3 separate regions of the Homo sapiens genome follow, and all the other regions are linked to region 1. The links come from fine-mapping of genetic effects on gene expression. A gene starts in region 1. Each other region holds a variant in brackets. All regions are shown on one strand. Distances are between the middles of the regions.

Region 1 (8,180 bases):
ACCTACATCAAGGGAAGGTTTCCTATCTGTTAACCTCTATTTCATGTAGACTGAAACTTGACCAGCTTGCATTGATTCAAATCCCTAACTAATCCAAGCACTGAGTAAAGCATAAAAATGCCATTTGGGTGTCAGTGCCTACATGACTTAAGTACTTGAATGTCTCCCAGGCATCTCAAACATTTCATGAGTTTATACTGAAACGCATCCTTCCAACCCAGTCATCACCAACACTGCCATGACAGCTTCTTACCTCATGTTATCCTTTCAGTAAGTGGCATATCCATCCACCTAACTTACCATGCCACAAGCCTGGGGGCCACCGCTGACCCCTTCTTCCTCATTTCCAATATCCAGGCTATTGTCAAGTCCCAGAATCTCCTTCTAAAATATACTTCATTTCTGTCTATTTCTCGCTGTTTCCTTGGAGGGTCACCTTGGAGGATTGAGCTATTCCATTTCTTGCCCAGACAACTCCAACCACCTTCTGTCTGGATTTCCATTCTCCACACAGCAGCTAGAGAGAAAACACAATCCGGATCATTTTACTACATGCATAAAACTCTTTAAAGGCTCCCAACAGTGTTGGGATACAGTCCCAAATCCTAAATAAGACTTAGAGGCTCTGCACCATCTGACCCTGCCTATCCTCCACCACCTGGCATAGTTGTGAGCCAGTCTCTCTCACTGGGCTTCAGCCACCGACCTGTTCATCTCTTGAGTGTGCCATCTCAGGGGCCTGCACAAGCTGGTCCCATGTCTGTACTACTCTGTTCCTACCCCTATTTAACAGTTAACTCCTACTGATATTCCTGGTCATTGATTAAATTATCATTTTCATATCACTTCCTCAATGAGGCCTTCCTTGACCCAGCCCCAATCTCCATCAGGTGTTCCAATTATAATCTCTCACACACCCTTCACTTTAACTGCATGGTGCTTCAATTTTCAATTGGATATATATGTGTGTGATTTTTCTTTTTCTTTTTTTTTGGGATGAGGCCAGTCTCCCCCAGAGACCAAAAGCACGGTGAGGACTGTTTTGTGTGCTGCTGCATCATGAGCACCTAATACGGTGCCTAATACATATAAATGATCAGTAAATATTTGTGGGAATAATTGATTAATTAAGATGAAACCTGGAAACTCAGTAGCATCTGCTTTTGTGGCCACTTTTCTTGAGTTCTGTCTTACATGGTTTAAAACCATGATTTAAGGGCTCTCCTGCCCCGAAAATCTTTCCCACATTGATGGAATGTAATCTGTCTCCTCCTCTCCCTCATCCCTCTCTTCAGCCCATCCTCCACACTTCCTTCTTCCTTGAGTCTCATTATTATCATAATTTTCAGCAGGCACTTTACAAACACAATTTCATTAAATCTTCTCAAGCAACCTGCAGCTGCAATGTCATCATCTCCATTTCACTGATGGTAAGTCTGAGGTTTACAGAAAATTACCTTTGCTAAGGTTGCACAACTGTTAAGTAGTAAAGCTGGAGCTGGAACTACTAAATATCTATCTTTCCACTGTCCACTGTACAGAGATTTCTCTTCAGTTAGTTATACTTATTCATTCCACATTTACTGATCACTTGTATACCAGACACTGCATAGGCATAGCTGAATAAAACAAAATTAATCAGGCCCCTCCACTCATGGTAATTATTGTGGACCTATTTGGTAATGAATTAAGATTCATATTCACTAGCTCTTTAACACTGGGTGTACATGTGTGTGAAGTGATAAGTAATATTTTTTATGATGTTTTGACATTGTTTTAAACAACTTTTTTTTTTCTCCAAATATCTAAAGAACTGGGCACACTGAATAAACCAGAGTTTTTACGGCTTGAAGTCTAATGTGGTAAAGGAGAAGCAGTTCTAGAGTAGTTCATCTTAAAAAAAATTTTTTATTGAGATATATTTCACAGACCAAAAGAAATCCACCCATTTATCACATACAATTAAGTGATTTTGAGTATATTCAGAATTGTGCAACCATTACCAAAATGTAAATTTAAATTGTTTTCGGCCAGGCTCGGCGGCTCACTCCCATAACTCCAGCAATTTGGGAGACCAAGGTGGGAGCATCATTTGAACTAAGGAGTTTGAGAAAAGCCTGGGCAACATAGTGAGACCCTATCTCTATGAAAAATAAAAATATTAATAATTTTCATCACCCTGAAAATAAACTCCTGACTACATATACCCTCCACTCTATCCCCCAGTCTCTAGCAACCACTAATCTTTCTGCCTCTATAGATTTACCTGTTTTGGACATTTAATATAAGTAGATAGTATTGGCCTTTTGCAGCTAGGTTCTTTTACTTAGTATAACGTTTTCACCGTTATTGTGCCGTAGCACGTGTCAGTACTTCATTCCTTTTTATTGTAGATTAATATTTCATTTTATGGACAAACATTTTGTGCATCCATTACACAGCTGACAAAGGACATTTTGGTTGATTCTACTTTTTGGCTATTACGAATAATGCTGCTATGAATATTTGTGTGTAAATATTTGCGTGGACATATATTTTCATTTCTTTTGGGTATATATCTAAGCGTGGACTTGCTGGGTCACACGGTAACCTCCATGTTCAATATTGAAGAAGTCTCAGCAGCCCCTCTATGAGAAAAGGTTTGGGTTTCTGCTCTGAGGATTGAGTGTGGTCAGTGCTTGGCTGTTTCGCTAGGCCCTCATTTTTGTTTACACCCCCTCTCTTCTTGTCTTTCTTCCCCTTTATTTGCCTCTTTTATTCTCTTTTCTGTAGACTCCAGTCTCCTGCTGGTTTTAGTAGGAACTGAAGCTTTCACCGCCTAAAAGTTATTTGTAAAACACTTTGAACTCTCTGGAGGATGGACATTAGAGTAATAATGTTTATCTGTGGGTTAGGCACTCCTGGTGCTGTTTTGTAACAAAAGGGCTTATTGAGTAGGAGGCTTATTTAACTTGTTCGGGAGGGTTACCCTCCTACAACATGCTGTCCAAACAGATTCTTAATTACCCAGCTGAGAGTCTGAACGTCTTGAGGAATTACTTTGAAGTTTCTCGTTAATATTACCATCATATCATGTAAGTCTATATCGCGAGTTTGTAGATGTATGGAGTTCCTAGTGGGTGCCCGGCACATAATAATTGCTTAATAAATTGCGATTATGAAACGTTACTCTAATGAACTATTAGTGTTTTTTTTTAAGAAATACTTTTTTTTTTTTTTGAGACATTGTCTCGCTCTGTCGCCCAGGCTGGAGTGCAGTGGCACCATCACGACTCACTGCAACCTCCGCCTCCTGGGTTCAAGCGATTCTCCTGCCTCAGCTGGGACTACAGGCACGTGCCACCGCACCCGGGTACTTTTTGTATTTTAAGTAGAGACGGGGTTTCACCATGTTAGCCAGCTGGTCTCCAACTCCTGACCTCAGGTGATCTACCCGCCTCCGTCTCCCAAAGTGTTGGGATTACAGGCGTGAGCCACCACGTCCGGCCTAAGGTATACATTTTAATACTTTAAAATGCCTAACTTTTTTTGGGACACACTGGAGTTGTTTCATAACACACAAAATAGGCTTTTTGAGGGCACTGACATAAATTCTCATTGATCGTCACCCCCACGCGGTGAAAACCACACGTTACCTGGCATGTTTTCCGGTAGTTATTTTTAGAATAATAAAGATCGTCTTCACCTACCCCAGCAAATTTAATGTGCTGAACACAACAGAAACAACTTTTCTGTGGTTTAGCCAGCCCTCTCTCTTCAACTAAGTTATTTAGTGCGGATACGCAGAGAAGTGTAATAGGAGCTGCTGGGCCACCAAGAAAACGCTCTTGCCATTGTAAGGCTTCGATCTCAAGCGGAGATTTACCACGCATCTCACTTTAAACTGGGAAAGGAACCGGGATAAGGAAAAGAGCCCCCTGTGCGAGTTCGTTCCCAGCTCGGGGTTGGGGGCGTCCCAGGATAAATGAGATAAATGAGTTAATCATCTCCTGCAAGGCAGCCACTTCAGAGTTATGTCGCCCGCCTGCGGGGACTAACGACTGCAATTAAGACGCTCCTTCTCGGTCCCGGTCGGGTTCCGTGCAGCGGGGAGCCGACTGTGAGTCACCCCGGCCCCGGGAGCCCAAGCAAAGGGGAGGGGAGAGCGCCCAGGGTGGAGGGGAGCCGCGGGGCGAAATTCTAGCCCCAGGACGCCTCGGAAGGAAGAGGAGGGGCAGCTGCGCGTGGGGAAGAGAAGGAAGAGGCGTCCAGGGAAGGGAAGGGAGGAAGAAGGAAGGCGGAGGAAAGAGAAGGGGACGAGCGGGAGCGCGGGCCCGGCCGGGTGGCGCCTCGGGGAGTGTCTGCCGCGCGGGGGCCGGGCGGGGCGGGGCCGCGGGCGCTCAGAGCTCGGCGGGGGCTGCCGGGATTGGGGCGCCGCAGCTAGCGCTGGTCTCGGTGGCAGCTCCTCCGCGCCGCAGGACTCGGCTCTACGGGACATGTCCGTGCCGCGCTCGCCGCGCGCCCGGGCCTGCTAGCTCCTCTGTGCTCCCTGAACGCGCGGCGCCGCACCTGGCAGCGGCCTCGGAGCTCGGCTCGGGCAGGAGCGCGCGGCCGTGCGCACCGCGCAGCGACCGCTGCCGTCATGGGGCTGCAGCCCCTGGAGTTCAGCGACTGCTACCTCGACAGCCCGTGGTTCCGGGAGAGGATCCGCGCTCACGAAGCGGAACTCGAGAGGACCAACAAGTTCATCAAAGAGCTCATTAAGGACGGGAAGAACCTCATCGCTGCGACGAAAAGTAAGCGGGGACGCGGGCGCGGACGGGCTGCGGCGTGGCGAGGCGGCTGGGGGAGCCTCTCTCGGCAGGAGACGGAGGGTCTTGTGTCCGGGGCCAGCAGCCAGAGGAACGGGGAATTCATTCCGGACCAGCCCAGCTCTCTCGGAACCCCGGGGGGTCCCTGGAATCATTCCTCCTCGAGGCAGCGCGGCGAGTCCCCATTCCCGCCCCTGCGGCTCTGCGGCGGCGGGAACCAGCTGCCAGCGGGCCCCGCCTGGGCCCCGCCTGGCCCCGGCCGAACACCCCTCGCTGAATGCGCGCTCCGCTGGACCGACCCTAGGCACTCCTGGCCCGGAGTCAGGTTTCATTGCTGCCTAAAGCTACTCACAATCTCTTACAAAACCGAGGCATCTGTTTGCCTAGTTTTGTTTTGTGACTTCTCAAAAGAAATTTCTTGGGGATTCTTTGAAACCCTGCGGGAGTGTTGAGTTTTCCAGAGTCCCCTTAAGCTTCACCTTTTCCCTCTCATTGTCTGATCTTCCCCGACAGTCCTGTTCCAGGTCCTTCACGTGCCAAACCAGAAAGTCCACCTGGCTTTATGCTGCTTCCGCACATTCCTCCCCTGCCGTGCTGAGGAGGGTTCAAAGATTGGGGTTTGGAAGGGTGAGCGGACAGCCTGCCCTCTAGCCTAGGCGGGCACTGCTTGCAAATAGGGAATTCCACCCCGGTTAGGCTTGGTGCCTTCCTCCCCTGAACTTCTGTCTCTTAAACTCGGAAGAAGACACGAGATACAGGAGAGATAACTGTATTTTAGTGTAGTTGAGGAGAGTCTTTCTAGGAGAGAAGGGGCCAAAATTCATGCAGAAATACTGAGTTAGTGATGCTACTGGAAAATGGGGCGGAATTAGCCCCAGTGAGGAGCTGGGCAGCCTGACCATCCCTTGGATCCATAACCCCTTCGGAGGATGGCGGTGAATGTCCCCTTTCCCCCTTTAAAAGACCTGTCCATACAGCAGACAGGGACTTGGGCAGTATCCAGCCTTGAGGGGCTGGGTTCTTAGGGCCTTCATCACTCACCTAGATTCTCAGTTCAGTAATTCTCAGCCTTAGGTATTCGTCCCTTGTACATTTGTTTGTAGATACCACCTCTGGGGAAAATCCCCCATCTCACTGTTCTCCCGACCGCGCCCCGCCCCATTTTTCAGTAAGGGCGATTAAAACATATTGATTATACTGTCTCGGGCACCCAGCATGGTGCCTGGTACAGTAAATATGCATTTAATGAATAAGTTGAAGTACATTTCTGTGGGAAGAATTTAGTGAGCCATCCCTGTAATTTTGGAGGCAAGTCACTCAACTTCTCTGGATGATCTCCAAGGTTCCTTTTGGTTCTCTGACCTCTTTGGTGTTGCAAAATCAGGACTGGGACTCACTTAGGGTTTTTTTGTTTTGTTTTTAAGTCTCTGCTGCTTGAATCAGAAATGGGACTCTGGGACATGTGACAAGTGGGCTTATTTGGTTGAGGGCTCTCCAGGCCCTTGGCATCTGGTATGTGTGTTGGGTGGGAAGTAGGGGGGCGCCTATACATATGGAGGAGTGAGCATAGAAAGGAGGAGTTGGGAGCGGGGGTGCAGAGTGAACACGAGAGAATGAGGACTGAGGACTCTTTCTGTAACTTGATGTTAACCAGAGTCAGTGGCCGGGAGAATGTACCTTCTCTCTCATTGGTTGTAGTAGTTCCCTCTGGAGCTAGAGAGGTGTGGAGAGAGGCAGAGGGCAAAGCCAGTTTGGCCACTGGTAGAAAGCTATTTCTGTGACAGCATATTAGCTTTCCTGCCATCAGGACACATGCGTTAGGTTCCAGCAGCAGCCAGTGCATCTGGGGGGCCAGATGTCAGCTTTCCTCCAGACTGTAGACTTTCTTGAATTTGTGAATTAGTATCTTACTCATTTTGATTCTCGTCCTTTAGCATAAGAAACATAACTTGTAATCATGCTTTGAGAGTAATTGGGAAGTGTCTTTTTTTCTCGTTATGTTCATTAAGAATTTATGTTTAAATTCTTTCCCAGAAGGTGACAGGAACACAGCTGTAGCTCACATGCCTTTTCCCGCTTGCTCCATAAAGTTTACTTCTAGTTCCTATCAAAGACTAAGAGCCTTGGACTAAAGTCAGGGGACCTGAATTTAATTCTTCTTCACTGGTTAGGGCGTGGCTATAGGAAAATTGAGCAGGTCTTATTCTTTTGCGTCCAACTTCCCCTGTCTACCTCTTAGGGGAACTAATAAGGTTCTGCAGCATTTGAAAATGGCTTGATGAGGTTATTTGAAACTGCAGTCTAGGTAAATGGTTCATCTAACCAGTTGAGCTTTTGTATAACATCAGAGAGTCAAGGGATGACATTGGGTGGAGGATCTACAGAAAGAATAAAACCCACTAGGTCAGATTATTTATATTTCCAGATATTTTATATTTTATTTTACAAAAATGACCTTTTGAGCATTTCGAGAAGTGTGTATTTAAGTGATTTCTATTTTTAATTGCCCTGCACGGTGTCTCCTGTTTGCATTACATTCTTGGAAGATTTCAATATGTAATTTTGATGGCTTGATGCTTTGAAGTCTTCCATAAATATTTAGAGTTTTGAGGCCTATGCGACCTGAAGGCTTACTGCTGAATTCAATTAGGTAGCAATCTGCAAATATTTAGCACCTATAATTTGCTAAATACTGGAATTAGATACGGATTTATAATGGGGTAGAGGCCCTTGCCCTTGAGTTTACTGTCCTGTAGTTGAAATTACTTCAATCTAAGGAACATTTTTGAACTCCTTCCTGCACTGTGCTAAATTCTTGAAGAAACAAAGGATATAGACACATACCTGTGACAAGGTTAAACATTTAGTGACAAGTATTCTAACTTTTCCAGGGACAAGGGTTTGTATGTTAGAGTGGAGGAGGTTTGTGAAAGTTTTGGAACTCACTGGTGATAAGGAGTAGAACCTTATCATATTGGAAACCAGAAGAAACCAGAACACTCGAGTGTTTGAAGAGACTAGTTTGGCTGGAATGGTGGTTTTTCAGGGAGTAGTAGACTGGGATGGATGGAGAGGTCAGTTTTAGATTATGGAGGGCCATAAAAACAAGGTTAGGAATGTGGACTTTATCTTGTGGAGAGTTACTGAAGGCTTTTCAGCAGAAGGCTGACATAATAGCAAAGAGATGGTTTAGAGACAGTATCGCACATTTGTGTGTAGGGTGAAGTTGGGGATAGCGCTAGGGGTGGGGAGGAACTCCAGAGAGAAGAGCCAGTCATTTTAGTGGTGGATTTGGAGATTATTCACTCAATTCAATGAATTCTTTGTTCAAATGGCTTTTTTAGTTTTCTTTTTAAAGTACTTTCTTTTCTTAAAATAACCAGTGTCTTC
Region 2 (8,180 bases), 110 kb after region 1:
AGAGTGGGTGCCTGCCATCATCTTGGAAGAAAATCCTGGATACAAGAATGGAGCTCCTTAAGAGCACCCTTTGAAGAAATGATGCATCTCCAGTATTTTCAGTGGCACAGAGGAAAAATATGTGTGGTGATACGGTTTGGCTCTGTGTCCCCACCCAAATCTCACCTTGAATTGTAATCCCTATGTGTTGAGGGAGGGACCTGGTGGGAGGTGATTGGGTCATAGGGCCAGTTTTCCCCATGCTGTTCTTGTTATAGTGAGGGAGTTCTCACGAGAGCTGATGGTTTAAAAGTGGCAGTTTACCCTGAACTTGGTTTCTCTCCTGCCACCATGTAAGACGTGCCCTTCTTTCCCTTCCCTTGTGCCAAGATTGTAAGTTTCCTGAGACCTCTGCAGCCATGTGGAACTGTGAGTCAGTCAAACATCTTTTGTTTATAAATTACCCAGTCTCAAGCAGTAACTTCATAGCAGTGTGAAAACAGACTAATTCATGTGGGAAAAACCAGATTTTGATGACTGAGATGAAAAGTGATTCAGAGGAGTTGGACTTTGAAGAAGTTTTAGAAATATCTTAACAAAAGTAGTTTGCTTACTTCTTTATGCACAAGAGGGATACATGATGAAAACATACCTTTCAAAGAGCTTTTTCAATGTATATAAAAGTGCTAAGTGTTAAGCTATTATTTCAAGATTAGCAGGATTTTTTTGTGGTAGGATATAAAATAATGGAGTGTTTTACAGTTGGTGGTGATTAGATTCAATGATATATATATTAAGTTGGTGGTAGAGATTGTGTTAGATATTCAAGAAAATGCCAATGTAGTGGGAAAATATGGTTTCGAAGCTGTGGCAGCCATGGGCACCTCTCAGATAGAGGAAGGAGGAGTGACATTGACTATCAGGCCCAGCTGCTCTGTGGTACAGTTGTGTTAGTGTGAAAGCCATGCCTCCCACGTTCTGCCTATCTTTGTCTGTTTTCTGTTGCTTATAACAGAATACCTGCAACTAGGTAAATAAAAGGAATTTGTTTCTTACAGTTATGGAGGCTGAGAAGTCCAAGAGTGGGGGACCCAGGTCTCTCTTCCTTTTTCTTTCTATAAAGTCACCAGTCTACTCCTGTGATAACCCATTAATCCATTAACTCATTAGGCTGGGAATGGTGGCTTACACCTGTAGTCCCAGCACTTTGGGAGGTGAGGCACGAGGATTGCTTGAGCCCAGGAGTTCAAAACCAGTCTGGGCAACATAATGAGACCCCATTTCTGCAGGGGCAGGGGGAAGCCAGGTGTGGTGGTGGCACGCATCTGTAGGCCCAGCTACTTGGGAGGCTGAGGTGCGAGGATTGCTTGAGCCTGGGAGGTTGAGGCTGCAGAGAGCTATTATTGTGCCACTGCACTCTAGAGTCTGGGTGATAGAGTGAGACCCCATCTCAAAAAAATTAATAAAATTCATTAACCCATTAATTCATCAGTGGATGAATCCATTCATCTTTTAAGGCCCCACCTCTCAATAATGCCAGACTGGGGATTAAGTTTCAACTTGTTTGAATGTCCCAAGCCTTCTAACGGCAGCCTTGTTAGACTTACCCCAGAATGGCACTGCAGCCTCACCCACACACACAAACACACAGACACATCCACCCACCCACACTCACACCCACACCCATACACATACCCACCCACTTCCACCCGCACACCCACCCACCTGCCCCCACCCTCACACCCATACACACCCACCCATCCGGCTTGCTTTCCTTCCCTGTCTCCTTCCCCTGGGTCAGACCTGCATCACTGTCTGATGGCCCCTCCAGTCTTCCCTGGCTCCCTCCCCATTTTCTCTCACAGATGTTTCCCCTAATAAATTTCTTGTGTGTCTCATCCTGTCTTGGTGTCTGCTTCTTAGAGGACCTGGACTAACAAAAATGAACCATTTGGAGTAAAAGATTCAGGGTACTTAGCATTGTCATTCATCGGTTGCTATTATCACTATAAGCAGAAAATGTTGCTTTTATGTAGAAATGCTGTTCTTTAAATTATCTAAATTTATAGGAGAATCCCACTTCATTTATAAATATTTTGAGTGCCTACTATGAGCCACCGTGTTCTCACACCTGAGGATACAATGAGGAAACCCTTGTCCAGAGTGCTCAGCTAGTGGCCGCCTGGTAGAGAATGAGTTCCCAAGAGTTTTTCAACCCTGCAGCCCTTGTTTTTTACTGTTGACTGCCACTTTTTTCTCTTAACCCGTGCATCACAGATGGGCTGGAAAGAAAAGCTTTTGTCATTGATTAAAGCCATTCTTTTCTGAATGTTTCTTTTCTTCTCTCACATTTTTTCTTTTTCTTTTCCTTTTCCCTTAAGTCTTGCTCTGTCGCCCAGGCTGGAGTGCAGTGGCAGGATCTTGGCTCACTGCAGCCTCTGCCTCCCAGGTTCCAGAGATTTTCCTGCCTCAGTCTCCCTGAGTAGCTGGGGTTACAGGCATGTGCCACCATGCCTGGCTAAATTTTGTATTTTTAGTAGAGACAGGGTTTCACCATGTTGGCCAGGCTGGTCTCAAACTCCTGACCTCAGGTGATCTGCCCGCCTTGGCCTCCCAAAGTGCTGGGATTACAGGCATGAGCCACTGCGCCTGGCCTATTTTATTTTCTTGATTTAACAGTTTATTGCCTTAGTATGCACGAGGTTCCATTTCTAGCTGTGCCACTGAGTCATACCATTCACTTCAGAAACTAAAATTTTCTCTTATGTAAAACAAAAAAAAAATTCAAAATTGCCTCATGAAACTTTAATTTCTATGGGGTTTTTATTTCCTCTCATAATAATATTCTTCCCAAGTATTTATTTTGTTTAAAATATCGAAGCGAGGTTCTTACTGTCCCTTATGCACAGAGGGAAGGAAGATCAAGTTTCAGCATCTGCTGCATATCCTTATTAGGCAGACTCATTCCTTAAATACTCAGTAGCTTTTGTTTTATGATTCTCATTTTTTCCTAAGTGTACTTAAAAACAAATCTTTACAGGTAGATTGTGTTTGATTTAAATAATCTGAATAAAATTTCTGCTATCTTTTTTCAGTTAATGTCCTTCAGAATGGATGCTAGCTTTTCTTTTGTGGGAGGCAAACACACCCTAACATACTTGTTCGTAGAAGATAGATACTAAGAGAATCGTAGACTTTGGTGATACA[T/C]TGACCTTTTTTTTTATTTTTATTTTTTGAGAGAGCCAGGTCATAGGCAGATATTCAGGGAATTAAATCAGAGACCAGAAGTTGTCAGAATTTCAGCCTTAATCCTCTTTAATAGGACTAGGTTTCAAGTTTTTCACAGTTCAGGATTGAAAGTTGATAAAATTCTTACTGGGGACATTTTATTCTTGGATTATCTGTATGAAAGCAGAAGTGTGATAATTGAACTAGTCGATTTGGGATATATACTTTAAAATCATAGTTTCTAGCTTATTATGTGAGTCGTCTTTGGTCTGAAAGAATGAGGCATTATTCAACAGCCATTTCCTATTAATCGGCTCCTGATTTTCAAGTTTGAACCCTGTGGAATTAATTTATAGCACCTGAGCACCTGTGTCCCAGTTAGAGCTTTGTGCGTGGGTTCCTTAAATCTAAGTACCAAGTAAGCTAGTACTTAGCTAATGAGTGTGAGCTATTGCCATCATAAAATTGAATTTCGTTTTTACATTAGTTTCTCTACTGGGAAAATTAGATTAGCTTGAGCTGTGCTTGAAAATAAAATACCATACTGGGATTTGTTGGGAAGTTACAATTGCTTCAAGTATGATGTGCCTTTTTTTTTTTAAATTGTTTTAGGTAGGGAGAAAGTATTATTCCTGGCTTTATAGTTGAGAATATTCAGGTAACAAAAGGAAATTGTTATTTTCTGTCATCTAAAAATAGAACTAGTTAGGGCAGAGCCAAAATGAAAACACGTTGGCCTCCTATTTTTCCGTGCTGGAGGGCCCTCGTAGCGAAATCGATTGTGAAACTTTTTCACTTTTTGTCAACATTAGTCTTTTGACTCTTGTTCTTTCTCTTATGTCAGGTATTAAAGTGGGGGAACTTTATTGGCCATCTTAATCTTTCTATTTAAACTTGAGCCTAGAATGATGGGGAAGGTATAGGCCGGGGGAGGCTGGATAGATGGAGAAAGAGGTACCAAAGGGTGAGTGTGGAGGGAGAGTGATGTAATTAATTGATAATGAATTGGTTTAATTAGGGGAACTCTTGTGTTAGGAGTATAGAGAAAAGAATACGAAAGCATTTTGTCAAGATTGTTTATACGGTTCTGAAATTCTAAAAAATACTAATCCTTTATTAGTCTGGATTCTCAATTGCAAGCACTAGCTAGTTTGAACATAAAGGAAATTCATTAAAGGGTATTGGGTTTCTTGTAGTATCTTTAAGAGATGTGGGGAACCAGGAATGATGCCCAGGTTGTACCACAGAGCTGGGCTTAGAGCAGATGCCACTATTGCTACTGGATGTGGACACTACAGTTTGCACCAAGAGCCTCACTGCCCTGTGGCTGTTGGAAGAACTGCTGCCTCTGGAAATTAGACTAGTTGCTGCCACCTCGCTAGAATCTCTGGTCACTGTTTTTTTTTTTTTTTTTTTAAAGCAGTAGCTTTTGAATCCAAGTCTTGGATGGGACCATCTCATTAGTGGAACCCTAGCTAGGTGTCATTACCTTACTGCAAGCCAGTGTCTGTCATTTTTGGCTTTTATGGTGGGAGGTGGACTTTGTTTCAGTGGGAAGGAGAATTCCTCAAACATAGGAAGGGGTTTCAAGTGCTGGGCAGCCCAAAAGGACTGATGTTCCTGTATGTGCCTGATTGTAAGACAACATTATTTTCCCAGAAGATTAAACATAATAAAATTGTTTCAGACAACTTGAACACGTATACTTTTAGGTATGCATATGTACATCTGCTAGATAATCAGATGTCTCCCTTCATCATTTACTTGATTAAATATGTGTCCATATTTAAAATCAAATAATAGGCAAAGTCAGCATATATTTTAGAAACATTTTCTGCACTTATTTAATAAAAAATTTGTCCCAGCTCTTGGCACCTTTGAGATTAGTATATTCATCATGGATACATTCTGAATTTTTCAGTACAGCTTTCCAGAGCATTGATGGCCACATCTGCCTGAGTTCTTTGAGCTATAGCACCTAAAATCTTTCTGATGCTTTCACTGGAAATTTTATCTCAAGCCAAAAGTATATGTTAGCAGCCCATTTGGACAGTCTCTTTAAAAAACTTATTCCTGAACCTGGCACAGTGGCTTGAATCCATAATTCCAGCTACTTAGGAGGCTGAGGCAGGAGGATTGTTTCAGCCCATGATTTCGAGGCTGTAGTGATCTGTTATCACACCATTGCACTCCAAGCCTGGGTGACAGAGTGAGACCCTTGTCTCTTAAAAAAAAAACACACACACACACACACCAAAGACTTAACTCTGGGATATGTTTCCATGATTTCTCTTCCTCCTCTTCTTCTTCACAGGGTCTAACTGTTGCTTGGGCTGGAGTGCAGTGGTGTAGTCACTGCTCCCTGCAGCCTCAACCTCTCGGCCTCAACTAGCCTCCCACCTCAGCCTCCTGGGTAGCTGAGACTACAGATGCATGCCACCCCACCTAGTTAATTTTCTGTATTCTTTATAGAGATGGGGTTTATGCCTTGTTGCCCAGGCTATGATTTGTTTAATGTAACCACTGATCTTATTCCTTTTAAAGTGAGCTTTATAAAATTACTGAATACAAAATTTTGAAGTCATCTCTGGAATTGTAACTAAATATCTTAAATTTCTTAGTGTCCCTTTGTTTTTGTAACTTAGTCCTGTTTGTAATCTCTAAGTATCTGAAACTAAATGTGATTAGGGCTATTTTAGGCTAAGATTCCTCAAACAGTTGTTGATCAAAATAATGGGAAAGTCCACTCCTTTAGAAGACTCTTAAGAACTCTTACACGAGGCAAGTTCTTTTTTTTCCTAACAGATCATTTTGGGAAAAAGATTCCTTTATGTTTAGATCTATCGTATCTATCTATCTATCTATCTATCTATCTATCTATCTATCTATCTATCTATCTGTCTGTCTGTCTATGTATATATAAAGTTTCTAGGCACCATTTAAGATTCCGTTTCAAGGAAAAACAAGAGCTGTGTTTTTGCTGAATGGTTTCTTTGCTGCTATTCTTGACATTAGAATTGGAAAACAGAATTTTCCCTTTAGTTTAATGAAATGGGAAGTATCTGGAAGGTCATGGGAGAAAATAGGGGAGATATTCCTTTGTTCTCAGATTATGCATTCCTCTGGGGTCAAAAACACGTGGAATCCAGGCTTAAAATAATGAGTGTTCTGGGGAACGGATGTAAAATTCCTTCTGTTTCACTATACTCAGCCTATCCTTGTTAGTACTGAGTGATTAGAAAGGCATGATTTAGTAGTTATACTGACTTACTCAGTTTTACCTAGACTGAGACTTTAGAAAATTGTTACTAAAGATACTATAGGATGTAGGTATGCCTTTGTTGTGTTTTTACTGGGTATGGGGTTATAGCCCTAAGTCCTATTGTCTTTAGAATTTATGACATCAGAACTTAGACTTTGATTTCCAGTGTGGGGGAATGTAAAGTTGTTGGAGTGGTTCCTCCCCACAGTGGAGTCTGATTCTCTGCAGGTTGGTTGTTATTCTCAACAGATTTTTTAGCTCTAGCGTGGACTGTGGAGGATAGATTAAGATAACATAACTTTCCTTTCCTTTTTAGACATTTAAGATCCTTACATCCGAATGTCTGACGAAAAAGGATTTCAGACTTGAGTAATTGTGGGAAACATTTTAATCCTCCACACTGTTACATAATACTCTTTTTACTTTGAATTGTGAAGTTCTAATGGATTCTCTAGTTTGCTGTTGTAGCATGATTCTCAAAACTACAGCATGGAAATGTACTTTGTACTTCTGTGTCTCCCAGCTCATTTAGAATCCCAGATTGATAGAGATGGATGAGGACCTCCGCTGTCCTCTTGGCCAGCTTTCTCCCAGTGCAGGCATGTGTGAGAGGGTATTCCTGGTCATGGGTCATCTAGTCTCTGCTTGGTTATGTGGAGGGAGCTGGAGGTCACCACCTTGCCAGGCAGCCTGTTTCATTATAGTTCTCTTGAGTCCCTATGATAGGAAACCCAAATCTGCTACTCTGCAGCTTCTACCCATCAAACCTGGCTTTGCTCCCTTTAAGCAAATCAGAATGATTTTTTTTCTTCTCTCATGCAGTACCCATTTAAATATTTAAAGACAGCTTTCATGTTTCCACTAAATGTTCTCTTCCTCCCCACTCACATGAAACATCTAGTTTTTTTTATTTCTTCCTCCTAAACCTTTTTAGCATTCTGGTTACATTCCTGCTTTACCCCAGTTGGAAATGGCTGTTTTAAAATGTGGTAACCATGCTATTGAGGTAAGCTCTAATCTAACGGGGGATGCAGTCGAGTGCTTACCTTGTTTGGATTCAGGCGGTATGTGTCATCAGTGTATGTTACAGGGTCAATTTGTGGCTCCATTGGCTTATGTTAAACTTTCAGTTAAGAGAACATTTTAGGAGATTTGAGCCCAGTATGAAATTCATGTGACCTGTTCTCGAGACATCTTGCACACCTGAGCAGTTGCCTTTCAGCATCCTGTAGATTGCTTATCCCAGGCAAATCCTAACGGCGCTACTTTTGAGTCCCTCTCTTTAGCTCGAGAGCTCCTTGAACTGTGATTCTTTTATCCAGCATTCCTTCTTCCTTCCCAACTTCTGATTGGCTGCAAATATTGTAAATGTATATTTTTTAAAAATACAAGATAAGCGTAAGAGCATTGTTTTGCCATGATACTCAAGATGATCCTTTCAGGCAGGGTTTGGCAAACAGTGACCCATGGGCCTGACCTACCTTGCTTCCTCTTTTTGTAAGTCAAGTTTCGTTGGAACACACTTGGACCCATCATTCATATGCTGTTTGTGGCTGCTTTTGTGCTACCACAGCAGAGATGAGTAGTTGGAACTGCAGCTGCATGGCTGCAAAGCCTAAATTATTTACTACCTGGTCTTTTATGGAAAAAGTTGGCTGACTTCTGCTGTGAGGAGAGAGCATCTGATTATTTCATGTTCAAGAAGCTTCCT
Region 3 (8,180 bases), 340 kb after region 1:
TGAGGTTCCTGGACTGAGACCTGCAGGCATAGGGAGGGTGCGTGGGAAATGACAGACACTGAGACTGCCATGTTCTCCACCCATAAGAATGGAAAAGCAGAGCCCTGTTGTCCGCGTAGACACTGCTTGGGGGAGGAGTGGTGTGATAAACTAGGAGAGGAGCCCCAGATGGGTATTTTGGGGTTCGATGCTACTGAGAGAGGTCAGATCTTCAGAGAGGGAGGGAGAGCCTGCCAGCCTTATCTGCAACTGCGGAGCCACTTTTCCTGTGCTTGGGGATGCCTTGCTGTTGGTCTCCAGACCCTTGTAGCCCACCTCGCCCACTGCTCAGCTGGGTCCACTTCCAAGGCTCTTGGATGTTACAGGATCCCCCTTGGTCGCCTCTGTAAAGCAGTGACATCTCTCTCCCTACTGGCTTCTGCCTTCCAGGGAGGGGAGGGCTGGGGAGGTGGTGAATGGGGTTGTGGAGGCGTCTCTCTGGTTTGTTGGTTGGGGAGATGCAGGATTCCCGGCCTGGCCTTGGTTTCCCCAATCAAGCCTCCTTTCACCTCCAGCGTTGTAGAAAATCACCTTTTTCCTCCTCTGTTCATCCTGTCTTTTATTAATACCGAGTCTGTGCTTGCGCAAGTGTGTGGTGTGTATAGGGTAGGAGGAGAAATAGTGAGCATGTGCAGGTGAGACTATATTTGAGACTCTCTTACTGCCTCCTCATAGCAGGTCCTGCAAGCTAAGTGCTAGTAACCCCGTATTGCAGGTAACAGCCGAGCAAGGCCCAGGGGTTAATTTCCCAGATGCATCTAGGTAGCCAGGAGTCTCCTCTAGGGCTCTGACTTCAGCCCTGGGCCCCTTGCCACTCAGGCCCCCACATTGTTACAACCCTGAGGGCCTGTTTTGCATAGAATCCAAAGCTTTTCCCTGATGGTGGCTGCACACTAGTAGCACTGCCAGCTGGGGTGTTTGGATGAAGTGAGAAGTCTCTAAAAATCCTGGTATGAAGAACAATGTCAGAGTCAAGGTCAGTGAAGGCATGAAGGAAGTAACTTGCTGCCAGATCGCTTTGAGAGCACATCTCTGAATTTGCTTACTCAGTCATTACACAGATAATCATGTGTCTGACACGGTGCTAGGTGCTGGGTCTCATGTTATATGTGTTACATGCTCTCATAGTCTGGACTAGAAGAGAATGTCTCAGTGTGTCTCTCCTATATATACACGTATGCCTGCACACACGCACACAGAACATGTAGGGTGCATAACTGGGAGCCCCGACCTGGTCTGGAGCCAGGAGAGGAGTCCTGGAAGTGGGGGGATGCTGAAGCTGCTCTTTGAAGCATGAGTAGGTGCTGTCCAGGCATAAAGGCAGGGAATAGCATTCAGGCCCAAGGGAACAGCTCCAGGGAGGCGTTGAAGCCAGAAGCTTACTGAATGTAAGGAAAGTGCAGGCGGTTAGTCTGCAGACAGCCGGAATGTGTTCCTATTCATCCAGGGGAGGGAAGAACAAACAGTTACCTTGTTGCAAAGGACAATTAGAATTGGATTGTCCCTGTCTTCCAAACTGTGGGCAGCTATACCTTAGAGGACCATGAACTCAATTCGCTGAGTTGCAATTAGCATTCAAAGAATAATACTTTTCTACACAAATCTATGGGGAAAAAAAGAGTAGAATACAGAAAGGAAGGCATTGCATGCGCGCAGTGAGGGTAAGAGTATTGCTTCATGAAACTTGTGTGTGTTACGGATGTGTATGCCTGTACTTGGTTTTTGATATGAAATTATTCTCCTGGGTTGTGATCAGAAGCCACCTTTCGAGTTGGTCCGCTGGAGTAGCTCATGCCTCCCCTTTCCTTTATGCCACGGCTGCCACGCCTGCACCTGACCATGGTTGGGGGTTTGAGCTGGGGCCTGCTCACAGCTGGGGGTTATGAAATGCTTCTGTATTGCATTTCCGAACACTGGTGAGGAGTGCTTGGACCTGTGCCCTTTGCTGTCCAGGCTGCAATTTTCTCGTTGAGTATCACGTGAATATTTATGAACAGTCCATTGTGCCAGGCACCATGCCCAGATGTATAAGGCTCAGGCTGCCTTCAGGAGTTTCCCATACAGTGTGGGAGTCAGACGAGACTCTGAGAGGAGGAGGCATCCAATCAGGTCTCTAAACAGGAGGAACTACCTGGTGAAGAGGTGGGGGAAAGGCATTCCAGTCAGAAGCCACTGCACTTGCAAAGGCCTGGAGTTGCAGTTGGGATTTCTCTGGATGATTCACTGCAGTTGACATGCATGATGTGCCAGTGGAGTGTGAAGAGCTCCTGGAGGGGCGGCTGGAGCCAGGTGCCCAGGGGCCTGTGTTACAGACCAGTAAGGAGCTTGAGTTTGAGGCTGGGAGTGGTGGCTCACGCCTGTAATCCCAGCACTCTGGGGGGCCAAGGCGAGTGGATCACCTGAGGTCAGGAGTTTAAGAGCAGGCTGGCCAATGTGGTGAAACCCCATCTCTACTAAAAATACAAAAATTAGCCAGGCATGGTGGTGCGTGCCTGTAATCCCAGCTACTCAGGAGGCTGAGGCAGGAGAATTGCTTGAATCCGGGAGGCAGAGATTGCAGTGAGCCGAGATCGCGCCACCGCACTCCAGCCTGGGCGACAGAGCGAGACTCCCTCTCAGGAAGAAAACAAACAAACAAACAAAAAAAAACACAAAAAGCTTGAGTTTGACTTTAAGCAGGGGAGTGATGTGATCAGCTCTGTGTTCTAGAGAGTTCACTGTGCATGTTCGTGCACAGTGGATTGGAAGGGGCCGGACTCTGGAAACTAGGACACTAGTTAGGAGGCTGCTTTGGGATTGTGTAGATGAGGATTGTGGTGGCCAGTGCAGGGAGGCAGAGCCTGTCAATGACCCTGGTGCAGACTTTGTGACCCAACATCCCAGAAGTGGCCCCTGTTCTCTACTGGCCACTCCCTGCTTGAGCTTTTAAGTGAACACCCAGGAGGCAAGTACTTGGGGGCATTTTGTAAAAGTGATTTTTCTCTTCCTTTTCAGTACAAACCTCCAGGGAACCTGGCTGGCTAGAAGGGACTCTGAACGGCAAGAGGGGGCTGATTCCACAGAACTACGTCAAGCTGCTGTAGCTCCTGGCCTCAGAGCCCCTGCTGACCCTGGCACCCAGGGACCTGCCTGGGGGCAGAGAGCTGTCTTCCTCCTCCGAGGCTCTGGGCTGCACCCACAGGTACCTCCACACTTGGGAGTTACCATCATCACAGTCAGCCCTGGGGGTGGGGGGTGGTGGGCAGGGATGGGACGCACCACACAGAACTGTGATTGTGGATCAGGAGGGGAATGTCAGGATTCGCAAAATGGACTTTTCATTTGTCAAGTATTGGGACTTGTGATTTTTAATTATCCAGCATATAGAATGAGAGGGAGGGCAGCCTTCTGCCACCTGTGTCGCCTCCACTGGCAGTCACGCCACCAGAGCCACCCTGGCTCCCTCTCCTCCCTGAGCACCTGCTGCTGCGATTTTAAAGGGAACTGTACTACTCGCAGTGATAGGTTTGCAGAGTGTGTGCTTGGCTGTGGCAGCCTAGCTTGGAGAAGCTGCTGTTGGTGCAAGGGAGATGGTCTCAAGTCAGAGGGAAGCAGAGACGCGCGTCTCAAGCCTGCCCTTCCTAGACGGCCACCTGCAGGACCCCACACTCACTGCACTGGCAGCGTGCACTGGCGTATTTGTAACAGGCTTCTCGGTGCTCCTCACC[C/G]GTGTGCTGTTTTCCAAACACCACCTTTTTGCCTCAAGGTCTCTGTAAATGAAATAAACTGTAATTTACTATTTGATTTGTCTGTCCTAATGTGGGGAAGCGGTCGTGGAAGTCATTGCCCCGTCTTGATTTATGAATTGGCAGCCTACGATGGGGACTCGTCTCTCTCTGCTGTTGGCCTGCTCACAGGTAGAATCTGTTAGCGGGGAGCCTGGAGTATTCGGGGTGGGGCGTGTTCCTGGGGGCAGCAGCAGCCTCTGATGTGTGCAATCCTGGAAGGGCATTCACACCTCCTCCAGTGGCTGCACAGGCCTCTCTACCCTGGTGCCTGCAGGACCTGGAGCAGGGCTGGGGCTTTGGCCCTGGGTGGTTTGTGTGAGCCATCTCAGTGCCCTGGGACCAGCCGTCCTACCAGCACCATTGTACACCCCTCTCCTACACCACCCAGCATGCCTCTGCCTTCCAGGCCTCCCTGCTAATCTCTCCATCTGGATTAATTTCGACGTGGAGGGAGGAGAGGGAGGCAGAGCAGACCTTCCTGGAGGAGCCTTCACCCTTGACCCTGCCCTGCCCCGTGATGATGGCCACCCCCAGCCTGGGCAGGCCTTGCTCTGATGTTTCCTCATTCTCCTCCACCTACAAGCCACAGGTGCAACAACCTCTTGGGGAAGAGGGGACTTGCCTTGGAATGTGGGGCTTAGTTTTAGTGGCCTCAGGATTCTGAAGCCAGCCCCATGCCCCAGAGGCTGCTCTGGGGCAGGCATGACTTTCCATGCATCCCCATGGGAGGTTCCTGGACCTGTCAGACTTCTCTCAAACATTTATCAAAGGACGGATGTGTCTGTTGCCTCATCCCCAGATGAACTGACTCAAGAGCTTGCCAGTTAACAGCTTGGAAGTCACCTCATGTGGATCACGTGAGGGTGTGGAGTTTGGGAGTTGTATGTGTATGGGGAAATGTGATTCTTGAAAAGTGTCCGTATTGTAAATAAAAATAAGGACAATTTCGATGCAACATAATTTAAAATAATCACGGGCCCCGTGAAGAGCATTGAGACCACAGAGGAGCCCAGGGCCACCCTACCACAAGCGGGTCTGAGGTGTGGGCCGGGGCTGGCTTGGCCCTAGGGCTGGGGCAGCATAACCTCCAGTAGCCTGTTTTCTGAGTTGTCATTGCTGCCCTGACTTGTTGCTTGGGATGTAGAAAGGAAACTTGACTCGTGAGAAGAGGTTTCTGGCATGTTCCACTTCTGTGAGAGCCCCTCTGCAGGAAAAGGCAAACCTGTGGGCAGCTAGAGCAGGCTCAGGTTAGTGTTGGGAGTGGCTTCCTGGCAGATTCCTAATTGGTGTATCCCAGGGGCCATTAAAAATCTCCCTGCATCAGGCCTTGATTGATTTGTTTGCTTGCTGGAGATTCCTATTGTTAACAGTGAGATGCACCCAACCAGCCGTTCCCCTCAAAGTGCTTTTACCACCACTTAAAGAAATCACCACCAAGTCTGGCTATCTATGTGACCTTGGGCAAGATCGGTTACCCCCATGATTCTGTTAAAGCCTCCTAAAAATAAAATGATACTGAGAGGTTTGGGGTTGAAATGACCTAATAGAAGCAGCGCACCCAGTATGTGGGGAGGGCTTGGCTAACAGGAACTGCTGTTCCCGTTTTTCTTAGTTCTACGAATAAGAATAGCAGTATCTTGCATCTTTGTCATCAGGGTCTTCTGTGTTCCTTAGGATGATGGGGTGACAAGTAGTGAAGTTCTACAGCTGTGCCCTGTGGAGGCTCCTGTAGCCTTAAGAGCTGAAGACCCCTCCTGTGGCTCTGTGGAAGAGTGGGGTAGTGCCAGAGGGGAGCAGGGGTGTTTCTGTCTGAGAATGTGACACGTGCACAGCAGTGTGGCCAGGACTGCCAAGGCCTCTGGGCAGGGAGCTTACCCCTGGACATGGCCCAGGATGTACTGAGGAATGGGATCAGGAGGTGTTTTCTTACTTTGGTGGATCATCTTCCTTCCCCTAGAAGAGGAGCGGAGTATGTTTTGCTGTTTTAGTTGGATGGGTGCGGCTGCTCCCCAAGGCTCTGCTGAGGCTGCCTGGACTTCCCTCAGCCCTACCTTGCTCAGCGACTGCAGCACCAACTGCGCCTGCCTAGACCAGGTCCATAGCCTGTGTTCATTCAGAGGCAGTATGGTGGTTTGGGGCAAAAAAGAGCACTTGGGCTATGTGTTTCTTGTTGACACTGGGGCTGCAGGGCTTGCATCTGATGGTGCCACCCACAGGGCCTTCCCTGGTGTTCCCTGCACCTGTAAAGGAGATGCCAGGTGAAAACAGAGCCAAAGGACTTGCAGGGGCTGCAGCCCCAACTTCCTTCCTTTGTAGTAGCAGCCACACATGCAGTTGGGGGTATGGAAGGGAAAAGCAATGGGTGTCCATGCCAGAGATGGATGTCTAACTCATTCTTTCCTTACAATGACTGCACAAGCCAGGAGATATTAGCCCATTTTATGGATGAGAAAATGGAGACGAGCACTTGCTTGCTCAGGTTCGATAAGCTAGTCACAGAAAGTTCTTTCTGCTGTGCCATCTTGTCCTCAGGGCCATGCTGTTATGAGTTGAATTGTTTCCCACTCCCCAAATTCACATGTTGAAGTCCTTAACCCCTAGTCCCTCAGAATGTGATGTCATTAGGAACTAGAATCTTTGCAGATGTTGCTAGTTAAGCTGAGCACAGTAGGGTTGGCCTTAATCCGATATGACTGATGTCCTTAAAACAAGGAGAAATTTGGACACTGAGACAGACTCACATAGAAGAAAGATGACATGAAGAGAAACAGGGAGAAGACAGCCATCTACAAGCCAAGGGGAGAGGCCTGGAATAGACCCTTCTCTCTCAGCCCTCACTGAAGGAACCAACCCTGCTGACACCTCCATCTTGGACTTCCAGCCTCCAGAACTGGGAGAAAATGCATTTCTGTTTAAGGTGCCCAATTTGTGGTCCTTTGTTACAGTAGCTCTATGAACGTAATACAGTGGTGAAAAGTGCGTGTTGCATTACAAACAAGCTGTTTTGAAATCCTATTTTTGCTATTTTATATCTTGGTGATCTCTGGTAAGTTACTTGACCTTTTTATGGTTCTGTTTGTGCCAGTGAAATGGAAAGAGGAGAAGCAACCTGTGGGATGTGACAGTTAAATGAGAGTGAATGTCCTGTGCTGGATGGGCACATGGTAGGAAGTGGGGTTTAGTAAATGGAGAGGACTGGAGAAGGCAAGGCAGCAGGACACTGTGGTGGTTGGGGGTCGGTTTCTGTCCCCCTTCTCATCTGTAAATCACTGCCTGCTTCCTGCCAGCATCTCTTCTCCAAAAGCCATTCCATGCTCTTGTCCTTTGCTGACATTGCTCAGCCTCTCCCCTCCTTCCCAACGCCACTCCAGGCTCCTGCTCTCTTGGACTTGCCTTTGTTCCCATTCACCTCCAGACTGGGCATCTTCTCAGCTTCTTAGGAGTTCTCCCTTCCAGTCTCTCAAAGCCAGTTCTGGTTACTCCTTCGCTGGCCAGATGTTTTCCATGACTTCTTGAATCTTCTTGAGCCACGTAGCTTTCCTCTGTCCACTCTGAGGATGCTGTTCCAGGAGTGTGTCCTCAAACAGCTCTCCCACTCCTAGTTCTGCAAATGTCTTCTCAGTTGCTTGTCAGCACTCTTCCTCCTTGACTGGCCTGAGCAGTAATTTATTGCTACCTCATTTGGGCAGCCCAGCTCATTCTGACACTTAAATGTCTAGCTAAAAGTATCTCAATCTATCGGTTAGAAGAATACCTTGGAAAACACTTTCTATCTGAAGATCAACTTGATTGGAAGAACTCCTATTTTTGGCCCAAGAGACCTGCACTTTAAATTTGGGCAGTGAATGCATGGCAGCTCAGGGCCATGCCTTGGTGTCTGGATTCCTTCTTCCTTGTGGAGTTTAGCAACTAAGGAAACACTGCAAGGTGGAGCAGCTCCCATGCCAGGAGCAGCAGGATCAGACCTAGCCAGGCCAGTTTTCACAGGTGCTGCCATCCACCCTCAGTCAGGCTGGCTCAGGGCATGGAGATCCATATAAAGGGGTTTTTTCAGACTAGGGAAAACTTGGAAACCACTGTCTTGGCAACATACATGCTGCAGCAAAATATCTCAGTAACTACTAGTGTGGTAGACATTTAAAGATCCTGATCTTTCACCCCTCCCCAAACCCATGCCCTTTTGTGGAGTCCTTTCAGGCTGACTCAGGGCTTGACCTCACAACTTGCTTTGGCCAATGGGCTTGGAGCAAACTTGATTCAGTCAGAGGCATGGAAAGTGTTATATGCCTTTCCAGGCTCTTTTTTAAAGCCCTGGCTTTGCCATGAAAATAAACCCAGACTAGCTTGCTGGAGGATGAGAGGCCACATGGAGCA

Alleles and levels. Positions count from the first base shown, and alleles are read on the strand shown. Sizes are in standard deviations (SD) of each study's normalised expression. Not every link is listed here.
In carriers of allele C in region 3, the expression in tibial artery of the gene that starts at base 4,408 in region 1 tends to be higher than with G alone (small effect, 0.20 SD a copy in GTEx).

The links.
Region 2: its variant is fine-mapped to the expression of ARHGAP10 in whole blood (TOPMed, PIP 0.91).
Region 3: its variant is fine-mapped to the expression of ARHGAP10 in tibial artery (GTEx, PIP 0.98).

The regions. Positions count from the first base shown.
Region 1 is chr4:147,727,681-147,735,860 of GRCh38, forward strand. ARHGAP10 (Rho GTPase activating protein 10) reads left to right here and starts at 4,408. Exons shown (of 23, transcript NM_024605.4): 1 at 4,408-4,775. The coding sequence starts at 4,622. RefSeq lists enhancers at 4,019-4,911, 4,912-5,804, 5,125-5,194, 6,323-6,452 and silencers at 4,105-4,624, 4,935-5,014.
Region 2 is chr4:147,833,040-147,841,219 of GRCh38, forward strand. All of the region lies in intron 3 of ARHGAP10 (Rho GTPase activating protein 10), which reads left to right. Among named protein-coding and RNA genes, the nearest start is that of MIR4799, 55 kb to the left of the region's middle. The variant T/C (reference allele first, on the strand shown) is at 3,187.
Region 3 is chr4:148,068,960-148,077,139 of GRCh38, forward strand. It overlaps ARHGAP10 (Rho GTPase activating protein 10), which reads left to right. Exons shown (of 23, transcript NM_024605.4): 23 at 3,034-3,817. The coding sequence ends at 3,122. Among named protein-coding and RNA genes, the nearest start is that of MIR4799, 290 kb to the left of the region's middle. The variant C/G (reference allele first, on the strand shown) is at 3,747.